Linked DNA regions of Homo sapiens. The protein of the gene in region 1 interacts with the protein of each later gene in a pairwise test. Each region holds a gene or a part of one and is shown in the gene's direction. Other genes may lie near its edges. The genes, in order: TMPPE, STX8, GPR152 and CYB561.

The links.
Region 2: the proteins of TMPPE (region 1) and STX8 interact in binary tests that used the Homo sapiens proteins (3 or more experiments, as listed by UniProt).
Region 3: the proteins of TMPPE (region 1) and GPR152 interact in binary tests that used the Homo sapiens proteins (3 or more experiments, as listed by UniProt).
Region 4: the proteins of TMPPE (region 1) and CYB561 interact in binary tests that used the Homo sapiens proteins (3 or more experiments, as listed by UniProt).

The regions. Positions count from the first base shown.
Region 1 is NC_000003.12:33,089,916-33,094,182, reverse strand, and holds the end of TMPPE (transmembrane protein with metallophosphoesterase domain), read left to right. Parts: coding exon 1-1,349; 3' UTR 1,350-3,761; downstream 3,762-4,267.
Region 2 is NC_000017.11:9,502,815-9,509,856, reverse strand, and holds part of STX8 (syntaxin-8), read left to right. Parts: intron 1-4,694; coding exon 4,695-4,819; intron 4,820-7,042. UniProt on the Homo sapiens protein: Vesicle trafficking protein that functions in the early secretory pathway, possibly by mediating retrograde transport from cis-Golgi membranes to the ER.
Region 3 is NC_000011.10:67,450,778-67,457,082, reverse strand, and holds GPR152 (probable G-protein coupled receptor 152), read left to right. Parts: upstream 1-4,353; 5' UTR 4,354-4,358; coding exon 4,359-5,771; 3' UTR 5,772-5,782; downstream 5,783-6,305. Other genes in the region: CABP4 (calcium-binding protein 4), read right to left, coding at 641-784, 865-895, 1,294-1,659. UniProt on the Homo sapiens protein: Orphan receptor.
Region 4 is NC_000017.11:63,431,799-63,436,343, reverse strand, and holds the end of CYB561 (transmembrane ascorbate-dependent reductase CYB561), read left to right. Parts: intron 1-191; coding exon 192-290; intron 291-552; coding exon 553-656; intron 657-1,100; coding exon 1,101-1,258; intron 1,259-1,749; coding exon 1,750-1,942; 3' UTR 1,943-4,040; downstream 4,041-4,545. UniProt on the Homo sapiens protein: Transmembrane reductase that uses ascorbate as an electron donor in the cytoplasm and transfers electrons across membranes to reduce monodehydro-L-ascorbate radical in the lumen of secretory vesicles.

The DNA.
Region 1 (4,267 bases):
GGCAGCTGTCCCTAGGCGCGAAGGCCACCCTGGCTGCTGTCACTGTCTTCGTGTCCATGATCGCCTCCCGCTCGTATCTGGCAGAGAGCCTTGAGCTCAGGGCCTGGCGTTGGCTGCTTCGCTTGCAGCTTGCCCTGTTTGTCAACTCGCTCTTGCTCATTGGCTCCCTCTACATTTGGCGCAGCACAGTGAGCAACCTCTGCCACTCCCCAGCTGCAGAGTCAACCTGTTTTCAGCTTTGGAAGGTGGTGGTTCTGGCATTTCTGGCCCTGGCCCATTCCAGTTTCTTTACCATGTTCTTTTTAGTGGCCGAAGAGCCCTATCTCTTTTCCTTGGCGGCCTACTCCTGCCTGGGTGCTTACATCATCATGCTCTTCTTCCTCTTCATCCTCAGCGGCATGGAGCAGGCCTACCAGCTCTTGGCCTGGCGCAGTGGTAGGGTCGTGGGCAGCCTTGAGAAGACAAGGAAGCTCGTGCTCAGGCCTGCCCTGGCAGTGGGAGTGACTGCTGTGCTCAGCGTGGCCGGGATTCTGAATGCCGCGCAGCCCCCGGCTGTGAAAACTGTGGAGGTGCCCATCCATCAGCTGCCTGCCTCAATGAACAACCTCAAGATCGTGCTCCTCTCAGACATTCACTTGGGCCCCACAGTGGGCAGGACCAAGATGGAAATGTTTGTGAGGATGGTGAATGTGCTGGAACCAGACATCACGGTGATTGTGGGTGACCTCTCCGACTCAGAAGCCTCGGTCCTGCGGACGGCTGTCGCTCCTCTGGGCCAGCTTCATTCACATCTCGGTGCCTACTTCGTCACAGGCAATCATGAGTACTACACGTCAGATGTCAGCAACTGGTTTGCACTTCTGGAATCCCTGCATGTCCAGCCTCTTCATAATGAGAACGTGAAGATTTCCGCCACACGGGCCCAACGTGGTGGTGGTGGCAGTGGCAGTGGGAGTGAGGATGAGGACTGGATCTGCTTGGCTGGGGTGGACGATATTGAAGCAGACATCCTGCACTACTCTGGCCATGGCATGGATCTTGACAAGGCCCTGGAGGGCTGCAGCCCAGACCACACAATCATCTTGCTAGCTCACCAGCCCCTGGCTGCCAAGAGAGCTCTCCAGGCTCGGCCAGATATTAACCTGATCCTTTCTGGGCACACACATGCTGGGCAGATCTTCCCCTTGAACGTAGCAGCCTATCTCCTGAATCCCTTCTTTGCTGGTCTCTACCAGGTGGCCCAGGCTACATTCGTGTATGTCAGCCCAGGCACAGCCTACTACGGGATACCCATGAGGCTGGGTAGCAGGGCCGAGATCACAGAGCTCATCCTGCAGCGGTCTCCCTGAACTGGCCCTGCCCTGTGCACCTCTGCCCTGCCCTTGTCCTCGACCCTCCATCCTGCTTCAGAGTGGTTTGCCTGCTTTTCCCCTCCAGCCTTGCCCACTCATCCTTGCCTACACACCCTTGGTCACAAGCCTGACTCAAACAGTGACTTATGGTGGGCCTGCCTGGCATGTTCAGGCTGGTTTAACTATTTCCTTGGCCAGTTGCTTTTTTTGATGCACTTGTGAGATCACTAAGGTCACATATATTAGCACTCCCCTCTATTTTCCAGATGATGTGGAATGGGGACCTTCTCCTGCAGAGCTCCCAGGGATGAACCTCCCCTCGGGGTTGCTAGAAAGGCATACCTCTAGAAGGTGGGGCGGGGAGGAGCAGGAGCATTTTTCTCCTGGTGTTTTAAAATTGTCTTTAGGACTTAAGTGGTTTCCAGAATCATTGATCCAGAGCCTTTCTGGGGAAGGGGTAGTGTTGCCAGGTAATTTGGGAGAACAGGCAAGATGGAAGGGCCCTCTGGCTGCTAGAGAAGAATATTTTCTTTTCCTCTGATTCTATCAGGATCACCTCTATTGAGGGCATCAGCAAAATCTACTGGAATGCAAAGCTCCTCCTGTTCCAGGCCTTGAGGGATGCTATTTAACTGTCTGTGCTCCTGGGCCTTTGGGGGCAAGGTCAGGGGAGAAGAACGGTGGGCGCCATGGTCGGTGATGGTGAGAACATGGCTGCTTAGGAATTCAGAGGGCTTTGCCTCCCTTGTCTCATTTTATACAACCCTTCGGGGAGCTCACTGGGGACAGGCTGCTTTTCCCTATTTGGAGATAAGGAAACCAAGGCAAAGAGAGATAGGGCACAGGCAGTATGACAAGATATGTAGGAGATTTGGGGCTAGAAACCAGGTCTTGTACCTCCCAGTAAAAGCGGTGCTTTTGCCCTTTTGCCAGAAGCAATAGATCCTTTGATCCTGAGATGGAGATAAGCACCCGTGTTAGAAAAGGCCTCACTGAGAAGACAGGGCTGGGCTGGTTTCCTGCTGGGTGATTTAGGCTTGTGATGGAAAGTCTTCCTCCAATGGGGAGTGAAGACACTCGCTCTGACTGGAGAGGCTAACCCTGCTGCTCACTCATAGGGCAGCGTTGGGTGGGTGACTTTCCCTCACTCAGCCTTGGTTTCCATCAACCCTAAAATGGGGATAATTATCGTATCTACCTCAAGATTGTTTTGTCAGGAGGGATCCATCAAGCCTTGTGCATGAGTTCCACATGGCACAGCGTGCACAGTAAACACTCAATGTTAATTTTTCAACGTTCCAGTGGAGCTTGCTAAGGAACTCTGTTGGGCACAGGTGCCCAGAGGATTCATGGAGCAGCCAGTCCTGGGGAATGTGAGTGGGTAGCGAGCTGCCTGCTGCTGGGGCAGGTGATGTGTCAAAGCAGCAACTGCTAGGGGTTTGCCTTCCTTCCCTCATGTGCATTCTGGCAGGCAAAGGGGGTTTCTTCCTTTCCTCCTTGTCCTCCTGGTGTATAGTGGGGTTCTGGGGGATCTGGAGACCACCCTTTTTGTTCCCAGGCAGCCACGGTATTGACAGTGGGCCATACCATGCAGTTTAAAATGTATCTTTGAGTTGAAATTTTGGTGGTTTCCTTATTCTTTTTTCTCTCTTCACTGTCCTTCCAAACTCACTTTTCTTGTGTCCCGACCGCATTTTGTGAATCATCCTTACTCCCTTTAAGTTCTCGCTTTGGATTTCACCAGGTGGGCTAGATGGTGCCATTTCACTTCCACTGTTTGATGCGGCTGGTAATGTTTGACTCACCTGTTACGTGTTATTTCACTGGTTTCTTGATTTTACATCTTTCTCATCAGTGACCTGGGCTTGATGAAATTAGCTTTCATTAAGTCCTATTTTTTTTTTAATTTTGCATCCTTACCTCTTTTCTTTCTCTTGAATGCCATCATTGTGTGGTCTTATGTACCCTTCATCCACTCTGAAGTCCTTGCTTGACTGATTGCTTTCTATTAGCAGAAAGAAAACAGGTCCATCCTATGTATCTGAGAAACAACATCAACACCCTCTCGTATGTGGTTTGTATTCCCTGACGCGGCGGACATTTTTGCAGCAGAAATTTCTCCATCACTGTCCAGATTCTGGCCCTGGTGGGCAGGTCTCCATGACACCTTTAGTCCCTTTGTTCAACATTCTTAAACCATGGACCTTTTTGTTTGTTTGTGGCCGGGGGAGGTGGTGAGAAACGTTACTTGAAGCTTGATCATTCTTTCAATTTCATTTGTTTCTTTATTTTTAATCTGTTAGATGCAAATTGAAATGCAATGCTTTTTGAAAATCAGCAATAGTGTCTGTAGTATATGATGCTGTCACAAAATCTCAATAAATTGATCCTGCTGCCATTCCTTCCAAATACCCATCCATGCTTTTCTTCCCCTCGTGTTTTGTTTGGTTTGTTTTAAACTTTTCGTACATGTACCTCTCTCCCAGCTTTAACAAGCATGACGAGACCACTCTGCCATCCTTTCTCAGCTACCCCTGCCCCACCTGTACTCTTTATTTTTTGGCTGGAGTATATTAAGGTAAATCATAGAAAACATAATGTTACCCCAAAATTACTTCAGTATGAATCCTTTTTCAAAAAGCATAGCTATAGTGTCATTATCATATCCAATGAAATTAACAGTGATTCTTGAATATCATCTAATAGCTAGTTAGGAGATTTGGGGCTAGTAGCCAGATTTTTGACCTCTTTAAAGAAGTGTTCTTTCCACTCTCTGAGTATTAAGTAGCTGTATCTGTCACAAATGAGTACAGAATTCAAATGCAGTTAACTGTGTGAAGAGTTAGTGTTTAGTTTTTCCTGATTATCTCAACTATATTTTTTATTGTGGCAAAAAAATTACTATCTTAACCATT
Region 2 (7,042 bases), on another chromosome or scaffold:
TCTTGTTTTTTTTTTTTTAATCTAGTTATCCAGTCTATGTCTTTTAATGAGATATTTAATTCACTTACATTCAAGGTTATTATTAATAGGTGAGGACTTATCTTGTCATTTTATTGTTTTCTGGCTGTTTTCTATATCCTTTGTTCCTTACTTCCTCTTACTGTTTATTTTTGTGGTTGGGTAGTGTTCTGAAGTGATAAGGCTTGATTTCTTTCTCTTTTTCCTTTGTATATTGGCTCTACCAGTGAGTTTTATAGTGTCACATGTTTTTATAATGGCTGTTATGATCTTTTCACTTCCAGATGTAATACTCCCTTGAGCACTTCTTGTAAGACTGGTCTAGTGGTGATGGATTACCTTCGTTTTTGCTTGTCTGTGAAAGATTTTATTTCTCTTTCATTTCTGGAGGATATCTTTGCTGCATGTAATATTCTTGGTTGGCAGATTTTTTTTTTCTTTTAGTACTTTGAACATAAAATCCTATTCTCTCTTGGTTGGTAAGATTTCTGCTGAGAAATCTGCTATTAGTCTAATGGGAACTCCCTCATAGGTGATTTGATGCTTTTCTCTTGCTGGTTTCTTTTTGTCATTGTTGTTTGTTTGTTTTTGAGATGGAGTCTTGCTCTGTTGCCCAGGCTGGAGTGCAGTAGCGTGGTCTCAGCTCACTGCAACCTCCGCCTCCCAGGTTCAAGTGATTCTCCTGCCTCTGCCTCCTGAGTAGCTGGGATTACAGGCACCTGCCACCATGCCCAGCTAATTTTTTTGTATTTTTAGTAGAGACAGAGTTTCACCATGTTGGCCAGGCTGGTCTTGAACTCCTGACATCGTGATCTGCCAGCCTCGGCCTCCCAAAGTACTGGGATAACAGGCATGAGCCACCACATCCAGTCCTTCTCTTGCTGTTTTTAGAATTCTTTGTCTTTGACTTTTGATAATTTGACTCTAATGTGCCTAAGAGGGGTCCTGTTTGAATGGAATCTATTTGGGATTCTTTTAGCTTCCTGGATCTGGAAGCTCCCAAGACTTGGGAAGTTTTCAGCTACTATTTCATTCAATGTTTTCTGTACATTTGCCCTTCTTTTCTCTTTCTGGAACACCTACAGTGTGAATATTTGTTCACTTAATAGTGTCCCATGAATTCTGTAGGCTTTCTTCATTCCATTTTACTTTTTCTTCCCCCCATCTTTCTGTGTTATTTCACAAGATCTGTCTTCAAGTTCAAAAATTCAGCCACGCATGGTGGCTCACACCTGTAATCCTGGCACTTTGGGAGGCCAAGGCGGGCAGATCACTTGAGATTAGGAGTTCGATACCAACCTGGCTAACATGGTGAAACCCCATCTCTACCAAAAAATACAAAAATTAGCTGGATGTGATGGCATGCCCCTGTAGTCCCAGCTACTCAGGAGGACTGAGGAGGGAGAATCACTTGAGCCCAGGAGGTGGAGGTTGCAGTGAGCTGAGATAATGCCACTGCACTCCAGCCTGGGTGACAGAGTAAGAACCTGTCTCCAAAAAAATAAATAAATAAAATTCTGCTTGGTCTAGTCTTTTGGTAAAGCTCTAGCTTGTACTTATTTACTTATTCATTGAATTCTTCCACTCCAGGATACCTGTTTTGTTCTTTTTTATGGTATTTATCTTCTTGTTGAATTTCTTGTTCAAGTCATGAATTGTTTTCCTGATTTCATCAAATTGTCTAGCTCTATTATCTTGTATCTCACTGTAAGATTACTATTTTGAATTCTTTTTCTGTCATTTTGTATATTTCTCTATCATTGGGGTCTATTACACAGGAATTATTGTATTCCTTTGGAGGTGTCATGTTTCCTTGCTTTTTCATGTTCGATGTATCCCTATGTTGATGTCTATGCATCTGGTGGAATAATTGCCTCTTCCAATTTTATGTGGTAGGTTTTGCAGGGAAAGAAATATTTGTATGAATGGATCTTGGGGTGTTGGTTCAGTGGGATGCATTGGCTTTGGTTCCAGGTGGGCATAGTAGTGTAGTTTTTGTGTAGTTTCTTTAACTGTAATCCATGCCAGTGACATTTGTGAGTGTCTCAGTGGCCTCAGCTGAGAGGCTTTGTGGTGGTGGTGGCATGACTTTGCCAGGGATGTGTTCACCGGGCTATTTGTCAGGTCAGCGATGCATGCGTTCACATGGTGGGTTGTCCAACTTGGGGTCTCACTTGCTGGGGTTGGGGTTGGTGCCCTTACTCTGGCTGAGGGCACAGTTGCTTGGTTGCTTGGCCAGTCTGGGAGTATGCCTGCCAGAGGTGGCCTGTTGGGCTGTTTCTCAGGTTTGGGACATGGGCACACTGCTGCTCAGCTCTCCTGTGGGGAATGCCTGCTGGGGACAGCCTACAGGGCTATTTCTCAGGCATGAGAGGTGGGCATAAGTCTGCTTGATGGCCCCGGGGGCATGTCTGCCAGGAGTGGCCTGAGGAGTTGCTTCTCAGACCCGGGATATGAACACAAGGCTGCTCGGCTGGCCTAGGGGAGTTGCCGCTAGGGGTGACCCATGGGCTGTTTTTCAGGCCTGAGATATGGACACATGGCTACTTGGCTGGCCTGGGGGTATGTCTGCCAGGGGCAGCCTGCAGGGTTGTTTCTCAGGCCCTGATTGAGGTGTGGGGCCTTTGGGCAGGCCGGGGGCATGTCTGTAGGGGGCTGCACTGCCCGACTGTTTCATAGATCCGGGATGCAGGAGCGTAGTCACTCTGCTAGCCTGTCAGTTGCTCAGGGCCTTCTGCTTGCAGGAGGGTATGCAGCAGTTTGGTTGGCTCAAGAGTGGGTTTGCCCTGGGTGGGACTGTTTCTGTGGCTGAAAGTGCAGAGGGTGGTTTCCCTTCATTGCAGGACCAGAGTCACAGCCATTCCCGAGCCCTGGGTTGTGGAGTTCAGCCACCTGTGTAGCTTTGGTGGCATGAAAATGGAGTCCCAGTGCTGGAAAGGTGCAGTGGCTACTGGCCCCAAGAGGAAGGCACACTCCAGAGGGAGCTGTGGTCTAAAGATGGCGCCATGCTGTAGTAACTTGGCTCATGGAGTGGGTGGGGAGTGGGGAATGCTCCTAATCTGGGGCAGTGCAACTGTACGAATTCCCAGCAGCTCTCCAAACTGGGCTCAGAACTTGCAAGGACTGGGGGATCCTCCTGTAATAAGGACTGTAGGTGTTTGCAGTGGCAGTGGGGGCAGGTGGGAATCTCCCGCTTACCTTTTCCTCACAGGGAGAAGGCCTTCATATGTCCAGGCCTCCTCAGTCCTGGTGGAAGAGATGGGGCCACAGAGGCTGGGGGCCTTCATGCTGCCCTCCTAGACTTTCAGTCACCACAGGGGCCTCTCCACTTCCCCACTGCAGTTCAGCACTTTCCCACACTGAAGTCAAATCTTAGCTGTTTATTCATTGCCTTAGTCCTTTCCTAAGAAAGGTGGGTGGGGGGGGGGGGGAGCGGGTGAGCACCAGCTGACTCTAATCAGTCATCTTGCTGATGTCCCACCCATCATTTATTCTATGATTTTTCATGAATCTGTTGAGAGCTCTAAAGATGAGTCTAATGTTCATCTCTTTGTTGAATTGGTCAGAAGGTCGTGTCCTGGACAAGATGATCTTCTCAGCTTGGACAGAATGCAGACAGGTGGGGAGAGGAGAGGAGCTACTTGAGAGGAGAAAAATCCTGAAAACATGGGGACTGAGGTGGAAATCATGTGTTTCCTGTTCCTTAGACAGCGAGACCAACTGGTCTCGTGCAGAAAGGGCACATGGATTATTAGAGGGAGTAAGGTTAAGATTGACAAATCAGAATGTGTTTATTCTGTTATGAATGCTACATTATAGTCACAAAATTGGTATTGAAACCCTGCATGTGTTTCTGTCTCTGAGCAACCAAATACTCCTTTTTTTTTTTTTTTTTTTGAGACAGAGTCTTGCTCCGCTACCCAGGCTGCAGTGCAGTGGCGCCATCTTGGCTCACTGCAACCTCCGCCTCTCAGGTTCAAGCGATTTTCCTGCCTCAGCCTCCCAAGTAGCTGGGATTACAGATGTCTGCCGCCAAGCCCGGCTAATTTTTTTTGTGTTTATTAGAGACAGGGTTTCATCATGTTGGACGGGCTGGTCTGGAACTCCTGACTTCAGGTGATCTGCCCGCCTCAGCCTCCCAGAGGGCTGGGATTACACACATGAGCCACTGCGCCCGGCTCCAAATACCCTTTAATGGGAAATTATATGGTCTTTTTTTAAAACAACAACAACATTGTAATCTGTAGTCGCAACATTGTGTCTGCTTGAGAAATAATATTTGTACCTTTGGGGTCACGTAGCCTCTGAGACAAACTTTGTCCTAATAAAAAGGCCGCTGTTCGGCCTTCTGTTTTTGAAATTTAAGAACCTCATTTATTACCAACTTCTTTTAGGATTATTAACTCAAACATCTCTTGGAGGATTAGTACAAATATTATGTTCTCCCATCATCTCTATAACAGGCTGTAATTCTGAGGACCAAGCTTGTGCCTTATTCATCCTTGTATCTCGTCCAGCACTGAATACAGTTCCTGGCATAAACTAATGATGCAATAAATTGTGTTTGAATTGAATTTTCAAAGCATTCAAGGCTGGCCACCTCTGCACTTGTGGGAGTAATTTGCATTTGAGCTGCATGTTTTGAGATATATCATGCATTTAATATTGTTCTTTAGGTCCAGCCTGATGAGTGAAGAGGCTAAGCGAGGAGCACCCAACCCTTGGCTCTTTGAGGAGCCAGAGGAGACCAGAGGCTTGGGTTTTGATGAAATCCGGCAACAGCAGCAGAAAATTATCCAAGGTACTAAATATCCTGAGGAGTGTGGGCTCAGAAACCTTGCCAGAATTTTTTTTTTTTTTTTTTTGAGACGGAGTCTTGCTATGTCGCCTAGGCTGGAGTGCAGTGGCGTGATCTTGGCTCACTGCAACCTCCACCTCCCGGGTTCAAACGATTCTCCTGCCTCAGCCTCCCGAGAAGCTGGGACTACAGGTGCGTGCCACCATGCCCGGCTAATTTTTTGTATTTTTAGTACAGACAGGGTTTCACCCTGTTAGCCAGGATGGTCTTGATCTCCTGACCTCATGATCTTCCCACCTTGGCCTCCCAAAGTGCTGGGATTACAGGTGTGAGCCACCGTGCCCGGCCACCAGATTTTCTACTGGAGCCTTGTTTGTTCCTCATCCCCATTGAAAATTGGAGTGAAAACTGCTGGTCTTTTAAAGCTTTTGGTGTGTGCCTCAGGATACCTGAGGAATAGACAGTTGCTGTCACTCATCTCGGTGGCTCATGGAAGTGGTGATTTTCCATTGGGCAAGAGCAGAGAGAGCAGATCTGAATCTAAGTCCAAGCAAATTTGATGCTTATGCTCTTTACTTTAGCTTCACGACTGGGAATTAGTCTCCAAACACAAGACTCCATTTTATTTTTTAAATTATAAAATATGTCAGTTTGGCTTTTCTTTTTTATCTTTTGCCCTGTGGCTTTTTAACTTTTTTTTTTTAAACTTTCTTATATTTTTAAAATTTCAGAAGTATGCATGATTGTTATACAAAGTGTAAACAACATAGGAATGTATAAGATGAAAGCCCTCCATATTGTTTCTCCAATCTCAAACTGGAAACAGATTAATATGTATTTCCTTAGACCTTTTGTATACATTCACATACATATATTCAATATAAATATACTTATTTTACATAAATGGAATCATGAGATATTTAGCTCTCTCCATATATATATATAATTCCACACCTTTTTAAAACTTAGTATGTGTCGGCTGGGTGTGGTGGCTCACGCCTGTAATCCCAGCACTTTGGGAGGCTGAGGCAGGAGGATCACCTGAGATCAGGAGTTCGAGACCAGCCTGGCCAACATGGTGAAACGCCGTCTCTACTAAAAATAAAAAATTAGCTGGGTGTGGTGGCACGCACCTGTAGTCCTAGCTACTCAGGAGGCTGAGGCAGGAGAATCGCTTGAACCCAGGAGGCAGAGGTTGCAGTGAGCCGATATAGCATGTCACTGCACTCCAGCCTGTGCAACAGAGTGAGACTCCATCTCAAAGGAAAAAAAAGAAAAAACCACTTAGTATGTGTTATGGACTTTTTAAAATGTCAGTATGTACAGATACATTATTCTTTCTAATTCTGCTTTTTAAAATCAGCTTTATTGCCAGGCCTGGTGGCACATGCCTGTACTCCTGACACTTTGGGAGGCCAAGGCAGCAGGATGGCTTGAGTGTAGGAGTTTGACACCAGCCTAGGCAACATAGTAAAATCCCATCTTTAAAAAAATTAATGAATAAAAAGGAAGAGGGAGGAGGAGGAGGAGAAAATAAATCTAAAGTCAGCTTTATTGAGATGTAGTTGATATGATCATAAATGGCCCATGTTTGAAGTATATGATTTGATAAGCTTTGACATATGTATATGCCTGTGAAACCATCACTGCAATAAAAATAATGAACCTAATTGTTATTCCCAAAAGTTTTCTTCATGCCTCTTTGTAATTCTTCCTATTGTTCCTCCCTGCCATGCCCAGACAACTGCTGAACTTCTTTCTGTCACTATAAATTAGTTTCCATTTTCTATAATTTTATATAAATAGAACTATACAGTATGTACCTTTTGGGGAAGAAGGGGCTCTGGCTTCTTTGTCTAAGCATAATTATTTTAAGATTCATTGAACTGGTTATGTGTATCAGTATTTCACTCTTTTTTTTTTTTTTTTTTTTTTGAGACAGAGTCTGGCTTTGCTGCCTAGACTGGAGTGCAGTGGTACGATCTCAGCTCACCACAACCTCCACCTCCTGGGTTCAAGCAATTCTCCTGCCTCAGCTTCCCGAGTGGCTGGGATTACGGGCGCCCGCCATCATGCCCAGCTAATTTTTTTTGTATTTTTAGTAGAGATGGGGTTTCACCATGCTGGCCAGGCTGGTCTCGAACTCCTGACCTCAAGCGATCCACTCGACTCGGCCTCCCAAAGTGCTGGGATTACAGGCATGAGCCACCGCGCCCGGCCTGCATT
Region 3 (6,305 bases), on another chromosome or scaffold:
GGACAGAAAAGCATGACACCAAATGTCCAGCTCAATTGTAAATCACATCCCCATTTTGGGAATTTTAAGGAAAAAATGCAGGAGTCCTGGAATGAAGTGAATATGAGATTTGTCTGAGGACAAACCAGCGAAGGGGAACCACACAGTTCCTGCCATCAGACACTGAGTCGCAAGGCATAGGTGGGGTCCTCTCCCATCAGGGCGACCCCAATTCAGGCAGCTGCCACCAGGGCACAGGGCTGAGGCAGGGTCACAGAAAGAGAGAGAAAGAGAGAAGGTGCCAGGTGACTAGTATCAGCGGACAGCACTTTATCACTGAGTCAGGGGCTTCTGGGCCAGCGAGGCAGGAAGGGCTCGGGTGAAAGGAGCAAATGTGTATAGTGGCCATGGCAACAGACATCCCGAGCCAGGGTCCTCAACCTGAGCCCCAAGGGGCTCTCCTGGGTCTCCGGGCCGCCTTGCTGGCCTGCCTTCCCACACAGAGAGGCAGGAGCTTGAACCCGGTGCCCCTGCCTGGAAACCGCCACCCTCCCTCACTCCCACTAGCACCCCGATGGACTCCCAAGGGCCACCTCCTGCCAGCCCCTCGTGACCCCCTGAACTACGCAGGCTGCCCGGGCGGGCGGGCTCCCTGACTGACTGCGCATCTTGATGTGCTGCGAGACCTCCAGGAGCTCCATCTCGGTGGGCATGTAGCCCAGGGTCCGCATGCAGTCACCCAGCTCCCGGTGGCTGATGTAGCCGTCACGGTCAGTGTCAAACTCCTCGAAGGCGGCCTGAAGCTCTGTGGAGGAGGGAGGTCAAGCCCAGGTGGCCAGGCTCAGGGACAGCTCCCACCCCCTGCCAGCAGCAAGAGCCACTCACCGTCTAGCTCCTCGGGGCCCAGTTCGCGGTCCTGCAGGGGGAGAGTCCAGGATGTCCCCAGGGCCAGCCACGGCTCTGTCATCCTTCCTCCTTCATCCCCTGCTCATGTTGGCCTGGGCAGGGCCCAGCCCCATCAGAGTAGGAAAAGGACCCTGAAGCCTCGTGGGACCCAGGAGGAGCAAGCTCCCTTTTGTGCTCCTAGAGCCTGGAGCTCCCACAGAGCCCTGGTGTGAATTCTGGCTCTGCCCACCGCCCACGCTGGCCCGAGACCTACCCTTCCCCAAACCGCAGCAACCCTGCCCCACAGCCCAGGCTCAGTCTGGGGCAGAAGAGGCAGAGGGCCTCTCAGGGGCAGGGTGAGCTGAGCCCAAGGGGTGTGTCTCCAGCCCCACCCCCAGGACCCCCAGCCCAATCCAGGTCCCACCTAACCTTCCCGAAGACTCGATTGAGCAGGGGCCCGTATGTCCTCTGAGCAGCGTCGTGCAGGGAGTCAGGACGATGTCGGTGGGACTGGCGAGAAGAGGCCGGCCCAGGGGATGCAGGGGGTGCGCCCGCCGGCCCCTCTCCAGTGCTGGGAGGGTTATTGCTGCTCCCCGGGGCCTCGGGGCCTGTCTGCTCCCCAGAGCTGCCAGTGCGCTTTCGAGACCCTCGGAGCCCCCTCTCCTTCTTGCTCCTCTTCCTGGTCAACGGGGGCTCCTCTGCATCACTCTTGGGAGTCACAACCCCCGCAGGGGGCTTCTGACGGCCAATGGCCAGATTTGGGCCCTGCTGCCCCCTTGCCTGCTCTGTGGTCATGGGGGAGGGATAACAGGGCTCAGAGACACCACACCCCTGGGCACCCTTGGCTTTCAGGACCCATAAAGCTGCTTATGCACCCCCACTCTTAGAGCTGAGAGCCTAGGATCGGGCTCTGAGGGGGATTAGGGTAAGTGAGGCAGGCAGCCCTGGCCCTAATCCCAGTCCTCTGCCCCAGGGCTGGCCAGGGCAGAGCCAGATGGGTCCAGAGAACTGTCCTTGGTCAGAAGCAAGGGGCACCAGGACGTGGTGGCTGCCATGAGCCTCAGATGCCAGATCTGCTACTTATTAGCTGGGGGATCCAGCAAATTCCCCTCCCAGCCTCAGTTTCCCTATCTATAAAACATGGGGAATAATGCTAGAGCGCAGAAGACTCAGCTCATGTGTGACATGGGCAGAGGCCTTCGTTAGGCAGAGAGGACCAGGGAAGGCATCTCAGGTGGCAGGAGGCATGCGGACAACGGCTGGGAGGTGGGAAAGGATGAGCGAGTGGCCTACTGGGGCCCCCCCATGGGTGACATCCTGGCCAGAGCAGAGGGTGTGTGAAATGGAGGAAGAGGCCAGATCACAGATGCCTCGAATGCCGTTTTGAGGAGCACGGGGGGTGATGTGGGAGGAGGTGGACCTTGGGGTCTTAGAGTCTGCTCTGGGCTAGAGAGGCCCTGGGGAGGAGGGTCTGACTGTCCAGGCCCATCAGGGCTGGGGGAGGGGGTCTGGCTGGTCACTTGGCCCTACTGGGCCAGGGTTAGGGTTTCCCAGCAAGCAGCCCCATAAATAATTGATGTCCTCTCAGCTTGGGTTTCCTGCCCACCCGCCTTAGCGCTGCCGGGTGCCACAAAGCAGGCCCCAGTGAGGGCCGGGGGGACAGCTGGAGTGCTGGGCAGGCAGGCACGCCCTGCTCCTGCTCCTTCCACCCATCGGCCTCTGCCTCCCAGGTAAGCCAGGCCTCACTGGTCAGGGCCCCAGTCTCGGGGTGCCTGGGGCTCTGATCCAATAGGGAATGGAGACAGCAGAGGGGGTCAGCCTGAGGAGGAACCCTGAGGGTACGGAGGGCACCAAACTAAAGGCCAAGTGGCTGGAGCCGTGGGCCGTGGGCAGGGGCCAGCCCTTCAGGGCATCCGTTCCCTCCCCAGACTATACCACCACCTGGGCTCTCATCGCCCTCAAAGGGAAACTCCCTCCCCGCTGCCAGCGGGGAAGGGCGAGGTGGGGCTGCAGGCCTCTTGGATCCCAGGTCTGGGTGCCCTCCAACTCCCCTCACCCTCACCATCCCACCACCATCCCACTGCAGAGCCCCTCCCCCTCTCTTTAGCAGCTCCAGGAGACAAACAGGGGTCACCTCCTGCCTGAGCTGTGGGAAGCGGGAGAGGGCCGCGGTGGGGTGGAAGATGCTGGAGAGGCACCAGGGGCTCCTAGGATGGCCCTCCTGACCCCAGGCTGTGGGGTCCTGAGGCTCAGAGACCTCATCCTGAGCCCATGAGTGACACTCGCTGGAGGGGAGGGGGTTCCCACTGCCCCAGACTCCCTACCTTCGGGTCCCCTGGGCCCATGGGAACCAGAGCCCTCCCTTCTTGGAATCCTAAACACTCGAACCCCAGAGGAGCAGGCATAAAGGGGCCTTGTGATGAGCGGACCAAACGGTCTTCAAACTGTGTTCCCTGGAACCCTGGGGGGTAGGGGTACTCTTCCCTCCCTTAATTTGAGCACCCCCTTTTAGTCCATATAGGAGTTCCACTAGAATACTTTTTTTTTTTTTTTTTTTGAGACAGAGTTTTGCTCTTGTTACTCAGGCTGGAGTGCGATGGCACGATCTTGGCTCACCACAACCTCTGCCTCCCGGGTTCAAGCGATTCTCCTGAGTAGCTGGGATTACAGGCATGCGCCACCACGGCCAGCCAATTTTGTATTTTTAGTAGAGATGGGGTTTCTCCATGTTGGTCAGGCTGGTCTCGAACTCCCAACCTCAGGTGATCCTCCCAAAGTGCTGGGATTACAGGTGTGAGCCACCGTGCCCGGCCTTAGAATACTTTACTTACAGACAAAATTCCATACCTTTAACAATGTTTGAAAGCCTCCGGGTTAGTCTATCCGGACCCATTGGGATTCTACATGGCAGAAGATTAAGTCTGTCTGGACAGTGTCTCATGCCTGTAATCTCAACATTTCAGGAGGCCAAGGTAGGAGGATCACTTGAGCTCACGAGTTCAAGACCAGCCTGGGCAACACAGTGAGACCTTGTTTCTACTAAAAATTTAAAAAGTAGTGGGTGCACACCTGTAGTCCCAGCTACTAGGGAGGCTGAGATGGGAGGGTCGCTGGAACCCAGGAGGTGGAAGCTGCAGGGACTGTGCCACTGCACTCATCCTGGGCAATAGAGCAAGGCCCTGTCTCTCAAAAAAAAAAAAAGAAAAGAAAAGAAAAGTCTGGGTTGAGCCCTGGCACCTCCCTTCCTACCTTCACTGATTCTCTGAACCTTCCTGTCCTCGCCTGTAAAGTAGATTGTATGAGGACTCCATGAGGTCATCCACTTCAAGTCCTTGGCATAGGATAATTACTCAAAAGGTGATGACAATGGCGCAGGGAGGGATGGTGACTTGCCTGGAGATGCACAGCACCGTCTCTCCCATACTCGGTCATTCACACCATCATTGATTCACCAGGCACCCACTCCGTGTCCAGCAGGACTCTGGGGACCCCAAATGGACACTACCATGGAAGCTGACCTGGGTGCCACTGGCCACAGGCCCCGCACAGAGCTTGATGATGAGGACTCCTACCCCCAAGGTGGCTGGGACACGGTCTTCCTGGTGGCCCTGCTGCTCCTTGGGCTGCCAGCCAATGGGTTGATGGCGTGGCTGGCCGGCTCCCAGGCCCGGCATGGAGCTGGCACGCGTCTGGCGCTGCTCCTGCTCAGCCTGGCCCTCTCTGACTTCTTGTTCCTGGCAGCAGCGGCCTTCCAGATCCTAGAGATCCGGCATGGGGGACACTGGCCGCTGGGGACAGCTGCCTGCCGCTTCTACTACTTCCTATGGGGCGTGTCCTACTCCTCCGGCCTCTTCCTGCTGGCCGCCCTCAGCCTCGACCGCTGCCTGCTGGCGCTGTGCCCACACTGGTACCCTGGGCACCGCCCAGTCCGCCTGCCCCTCTGGGTCTGCGCCGGTGTCTGGGTGCTGGCCACACTCTTCAGCGTGCCCTGGCTGGTCTTCCCCGAGGCTGCCGTCTGGTGGTACGACCTGGTCATCTGCCTGGACTTCTGGGACAGCGAGGAGCTGTCGCTGAGGATGCTGGAGGTCCTGGGGGGCTTCCTGCCTTTCCTCCTGCTGCTCGTCTGCCACGTGCTCACCCAGGCCACAGCCTGTCGCACCTGCCACCGCCAACAGCAGCCCGCAGCCTGCCGGGGCTTCGCCCGTGTGGCCAGGACCATTCTGTCAGCCTATGTGGTCCTGAGGCTGCCCTACCAGCTGGCCCAGCTGCTCTACCTGGCCTTCCTGTGGGACGTCTACTCTGGCTACCTGCTCTGGGAGGCCCTGGTCTACTCCGACTACCTGATCCTACTCAACAGCTGCCTCAGCCCCTTCCTCTGCCTCATGGCCAGTGCCGACCTCCGGACCCTGCTGCGCTCCGTGCTCTCGTCCTTCGCGGCAGCTCTCTGCGAGGAGCGGCCGGGCAGCTTCACGCCCACTGAGCCACAGACCCAGCTAGATTCTGAGGGTCCAACTCTGCCAGAGCCGATGGCAGAGGCCCAGTCACAGATGGATCCTGTGGCCCAGCCTCAGGTGAACCCCACACTCCAGCCACGATCGGATCCCACAGCTCAGCCACAGCTGAACCCTACGGCCCAGCCACAGTCGGATCCCACAGCCCAGCCACAGCTGAACCTCATGGCCCAGCCACAGTCAGATTCTGTGGCCCAGCCACAGGCAGACACTAACGTCCAGACCCCTGCACCTGCTGCCAGTTCTGTGCCCAGTCCCTGTGATGAAGCTTCCCCAACCCCATCCTCGCATCCTACCCCAGGGGCCCTTGAGGACCCAGCCACACCTCCTGCCTCTGAAGGAGAAAGCCCCAGCAGCACCCCGCCAGAGGCGGCCCCGGGCGCAGGCCCCACGTGAGGGTCCAGGAACACGCAGGCCCACCAGAGCAGTGAAAGAGCCCAGGGCAGACAGAGGAACCAGCCAGTCAGACAGGTGGGGAGCCGCCGACAGCTTTGTCCTTAAAAACCCTGCTGAGTCCGTCAGGCCTGGAAGGAGGACTTGAGGGAGGGGAAACAATCCAGCCAGAAGTCTCAGGCAGTTCCATGTCAGCGACCCCTGCTCCCGGCCATCAGCCTTTTCTGTGGTTGCTCCCAACACACACACAGTCGCCCGACAGCCCCCAAACCGCAGCTAATGGCATCTTGCGGGGTACTGTCCCTCAACACCCCAGACCCCGCTGACTATTCTTCCCTGGGCCTCAGTCCTGCTGGAGGAAGACAACAGGGGGCACTTTCCCCGGGCTTGACCTGACCTCCCTTTGGTCCTTCCCTCCCTCTCCTCCTCCGGGCCTGGACACAAGGACGTGAAACAAAAAAGTCCCTGAAGAGAAGGGGGCCTCCCAGGAGCCACCAGCCCCAAGCAGGAGCCTAAGGCCCTGGTGAACCACAAGCT
Region 4 (4,545 bases), on another chromosome or scaffold:
CCCTCAGAGAAGGCCAGGAGCTGCCCAGGGTCCCCAGGGAACCTGGCTTTCTCCTCCGGTTCCTGCAGCTAGGCTCCTGTTACAAGCCGTCAGCTCACATCACCTCTCCACCAAGGTGCCTCCTTGCTGCTGGGGCAGGAGGCCTCACGCACAGGCGGATGCACTCACGTTCCCTCTCTCACCTCCCACAGCCCTGCTGGTTTACCGTGTCTTCAGGAACGAAGCTAAACGCACCACCAAGGTCCTGCACGGGCTGCTGCACATCTTTGCGCTCGTCATCGCCCTGGTTGGTGAGTTCCCGGGCGCGGCCTTCCCCGCCACCTGCCTGCCTCTTCAGGTATGGCAAACAGCCGCTTCACCTGCTCTGTTCCCTCCCCAGAGCTGTGATGGGCCCGCCCCCACCCCAAACATCCCCTGCAGGGCCACTAGGTGCTGGCAGCCCTCGAGCTGGGACTAAAGCCCAGAAGTCCCGCTAGCTGGTTCCCCTGGGTCATCTTACACCTTCCTTTTCCACATCCAACCCTGTCCTCATATGACCTGTCTCTGGCCCAGGCTTGGTGGCGGTGTTCGACTACCACAGGAAGAAGGGCTACGCTGACCTGTACAGCCTACACAGCTGGTGCGGGATCCTTGTCTTTGTCCTGTACTTTGTGCAGGTGAGTCCTTCCAACACCCCGGGCCTGGGGCCACCTACCAGGGAGGTGGGAGGAGGAGGGGAGCTGGGCTGAAATGTACCTCATGGAAGGGCCTGATTTCTGGGGTGTGTGCAGGTGAGAGAGCTGCCTTCCCAGGCCTGTGCGGGTGCAAAGCTAGGATTGGCGGCCAAGGGTGCCCAGCTCCCAGGCGCCCCATGGCTGACTCAGCACTTTTGGCCACAAGCCCAGCTTTCTGAGTGTGCCAAGGCCTCAAGCGTTGGGGGACCGGTCCCTTGTCCCTAAGCGCTTAGTGCTCCTCCCACCACTGTGCTGAGGAGGAAGGAAACCAGGCAGGGCTGAGGGGCTCACAGTCGCCACGTGGGCACGTGGGTGTGGGCCTGGCCGACCTCGGCTGCTGGGGTGTCCGGCCGCCCTGTCCCGGAACCGTCTCCTTTCAAATCCTAGTGGCTGGTGGGCTTCAGCTTCTTCCTGTTCCCCGGAGCTTCATTCTCCCTGCGGAGCCGCTACCGCCCACAGCACATCTTCTTTGGTGCTACCATCTTCCTCCTTTCCGTGGGCACCGCCCTGCTGGGCCTGAAGGAGGCACTGCTGTTCAACCTCGGGTGAGTGTCCTGGGTGGGAGAGGGCAGGGCCTGGGCCACCCTTGCACAGACCTCACCCTGCCTTCAGCTTCCCCAGCTGTGGCTTCCTGAGCCGCCTCTCGTGGCGTCACAACTGGTGGCTGTAGTTATGCTTGCTAAGATTTGGGTGCTTGGGGCTTGGCTTTGGTTAGCTTTCTTGATTTTACCCTTTCAAAGAAACTTCTGGGCTATGGGCACCCTATTTATTCCCACCACGCAGCAGGATCTGCAGGACAACTGCTTAGAGCTAGAATATTGATCTAGGTTTTTACATTGCCCATCTCTTTTTGTCTGTGAGCCATAGCTGGAGATTGCTGGTTGGGGGCGGGGGGATGGTTGTTCTCTTCAGGCAGGGCAGGGAGGCAGGGGCTGGTGCTGGAATCCCCATGGCATCTTTAAGGCCCAGGATACAAAGGGCATTTGGCCTAATTGTGACCCCTTGGGCAGCTTCTCCCTTCCTCTCACCCCTGCAGGGGCAAGTATAGCGCATTTGAGCCCGAGGGTGTCCTGGCCAACGTGCTGGGCCTGCTGCTGGCCTGCTTCGGTGGGGCGGTGCTCTACATCTTGACCCGGGCCGACTGGAAGCGGCCTTCCCAGGCGGAAGAGCAGGCCCTCTCCATGGACTTCAAGACGCTGACGGAGGGAGATAGCCCCGGCTCCCAGTGATGCGCCCGGCCGGCCCTGGGGGTTCGCGGGGTGTCTTCTTGCCTGCCCCTGCTGAGGCGTCTTCAGGACTGCAGGCTCCGGAGAGTGGCTCTGGCAGCAGGCGGGCGCGTGGGTGCAGCTGCATCTGTTTGAGTGCTGCTTTCTGGGGTCAGGTCTCCGCCTCCTCTGCTTCTCCTTTCTCCGCTGCTATAGACCAGTTCATTGTGTGTGGCTCCCGTGTCTCTGTTGCCCCCTTCAGTGCAGAAGGCTTTGGGTAGGACTTCGGGTGTTCGGTCCTGGTCGCAGAGCACAGATCTTTAAAGAAGCGAGAGAGGAGGCCCCACCCTCCTGGCAGCAGATGCCTGGGGCAAGGCCAGGGGAAACTGGGGGGGCCTCAGGGACAGGCCTGGAAAGGCCACGATGGCTGCTGAATTCAAACAAGGAGTCCCTCCAGCCTGAATAACACGTGGCACAAATGGGCCCGGCCTTTGGCAGAGGAGCAAGTGATATGATGTGTAAAGTATGTTGGTGGTGAAAGCAAGGTTCCCCAGGAGAGGGGAGGGACTGGCCCCTGGGAAGCTCTGAGATGAGGCTGTGGCCCAGCTGTAGTCCTGACCTTCCTCTTCTTTAACCCTTTAGCCCTAGGATGGCTTTGGTGGGAGAGGGGATAGAAGCCCATGACTTCAGACAGACTTTCTCTTGGCAGATGCAGGCGGGCCTCCTCCCAGGCTGCTCCAGACATGGGGGTTGGGGATGGGGGGCACCTTGCAGCCCCTTCCTGCTGGGGCTCCCTCCTTGTAGCACCCCCCTTGCGGCTCAGCTCTGGTTTCCTCTCCCAGGCTCACCCAGGCTCTGCTCAGGCTGGGAGGCAGAGGGCACAAACCTTATAATTTTTTAAATGAAAAACCGCTGCTGCTGGCTGTGGCTAGAGCCCCCTGGGGCTGCTGGAGCTGCTGCCTCTGTTCTGGAGGACGAGCCTTCTCCTTATCTGCTGCCCATCTTTCCAGGAAGTCAGGATGGAGTCAGAACAACTACAGTCATCCCCCGTGGTGTCTGCACATCACTCCAGCCCCATAAAGAGTGTCATGTTAGCTGAGTCACCATTTGGCTTCGGCCTGGAAATAGTGTGATTAGAACACTGATCGTGTGCGAGGCCAGGAGATCAAGACCATCCTGACTAACAAACACAGTGAAACCCCGTCTCTACTAAAAATACAAAAAAATTAGCCAGGCGTGGTGGTGGGCGCCTGTAGTCCCAGCTACTTGGGAGGCTGAGGCAGGAGAATGGTGTGAACCCGGGAGATGGCGCTTGCAGTGAGCTGAGATTGCACTCCAGCCTGGGCGACAGGCTCAAAAAAGAAAAAAAAAAGAACACCGATCATGTGCTTCTTGGATCTGGTGACTGTTCTCTCCCTGTTTTCCTTTCTTTTTGGGTGTTTGAGGAGCATGGCTTAGCTTGAGACACACACAGACACTGTGTACTTCAGTGAAGGGCTTAATATACAGTTTCCAAACCTGACGACTCTTCTTCTTGTAATGGCTGCCCTTTTCCTACCTGAGGCCGTCTTAGAGAAAGGGGCCAGTCTCCTCTAATGCTCAGATTTCCCATAGTTGGCTTTTGCTGTGTCTCCTGCCTCAGGCAGTGTCATTTCTGGGAGCAGGTGGTTGTAGTCCAGGCCCCTCCCCAGCAGGGTCTGCCCAGGCTCCTTCGAGCCCCTTTCCCCGCCTCCTCTCAGCCTGTCCGGATGACAGTGTTCGCCTCCTGTTTAGACTGTACACTCTTCAGGGGTAGGGGTGCCGTCAGTTCTTCAATCAGCTGGCACACACTTGTATAGTGAAATGTTTACATGTGGGAAAACTCCGCCTTAGACAAACTACCAAAGTACAATCGTGTCTCTCTCTAGCCGGAATGCTACAGAGAGAAATGGAACCTTAGATTTGCAACAAAAGTCTGTAAACTGGTCTGTTTGCCAAAGTGAACACTGGATGACTAAGGAGCTGAAGAAGGCCCCCAGAAGCGGATTTGTGGTGGGTTATTTTATTTTGCCTGTGGCCAATCTTCTGTGAAATACAATGTGCTGTTGGTGCAACAGATGATTCAATAAATGTCTACAGCAGACCTCTCGCCTGTTATCTTCCTTTACTGTGGTAATAAAAGGAGCCGGAGCTTTTAGCAGCCAGACACATGACGTTAGCTCTAGGCCTGAGAGAAATTGAATATCCGCAGGCTGGGCACAGAAGGTAAAGCGATTAGTGATATTGATCATGGCCTAGGGGCTGAAAAGGCCCAGCGGTTGTCCAGTCTCGACCCAGCAGAGGCAGTGTTGTTTCCACATGGTTAGATAAGCCCTTTCCTCTCAGCCTGAGAGGGTGGCCTGGATGGTGGAGCTGCAAGAGCCTGATAAGAGCCTTGGCAAGGAAGGTCCCCCAGTGTTTAATGGACCCCTTTCCCTTTGAAATCAGTCTTTTTGATCCTTAAGAAGAGGAGCAAAGCTTTTGGAACGAGCTGAGATTCCACTTTAGATCCACGTACGTGGCTCAGGCAGAAGGTGAGTTTTTGGCAAATTTGGGTGGGATCGTACTGTGCGCTTTGTGCCTTGTCACTTAAAGCAGTGGCCGCCAAC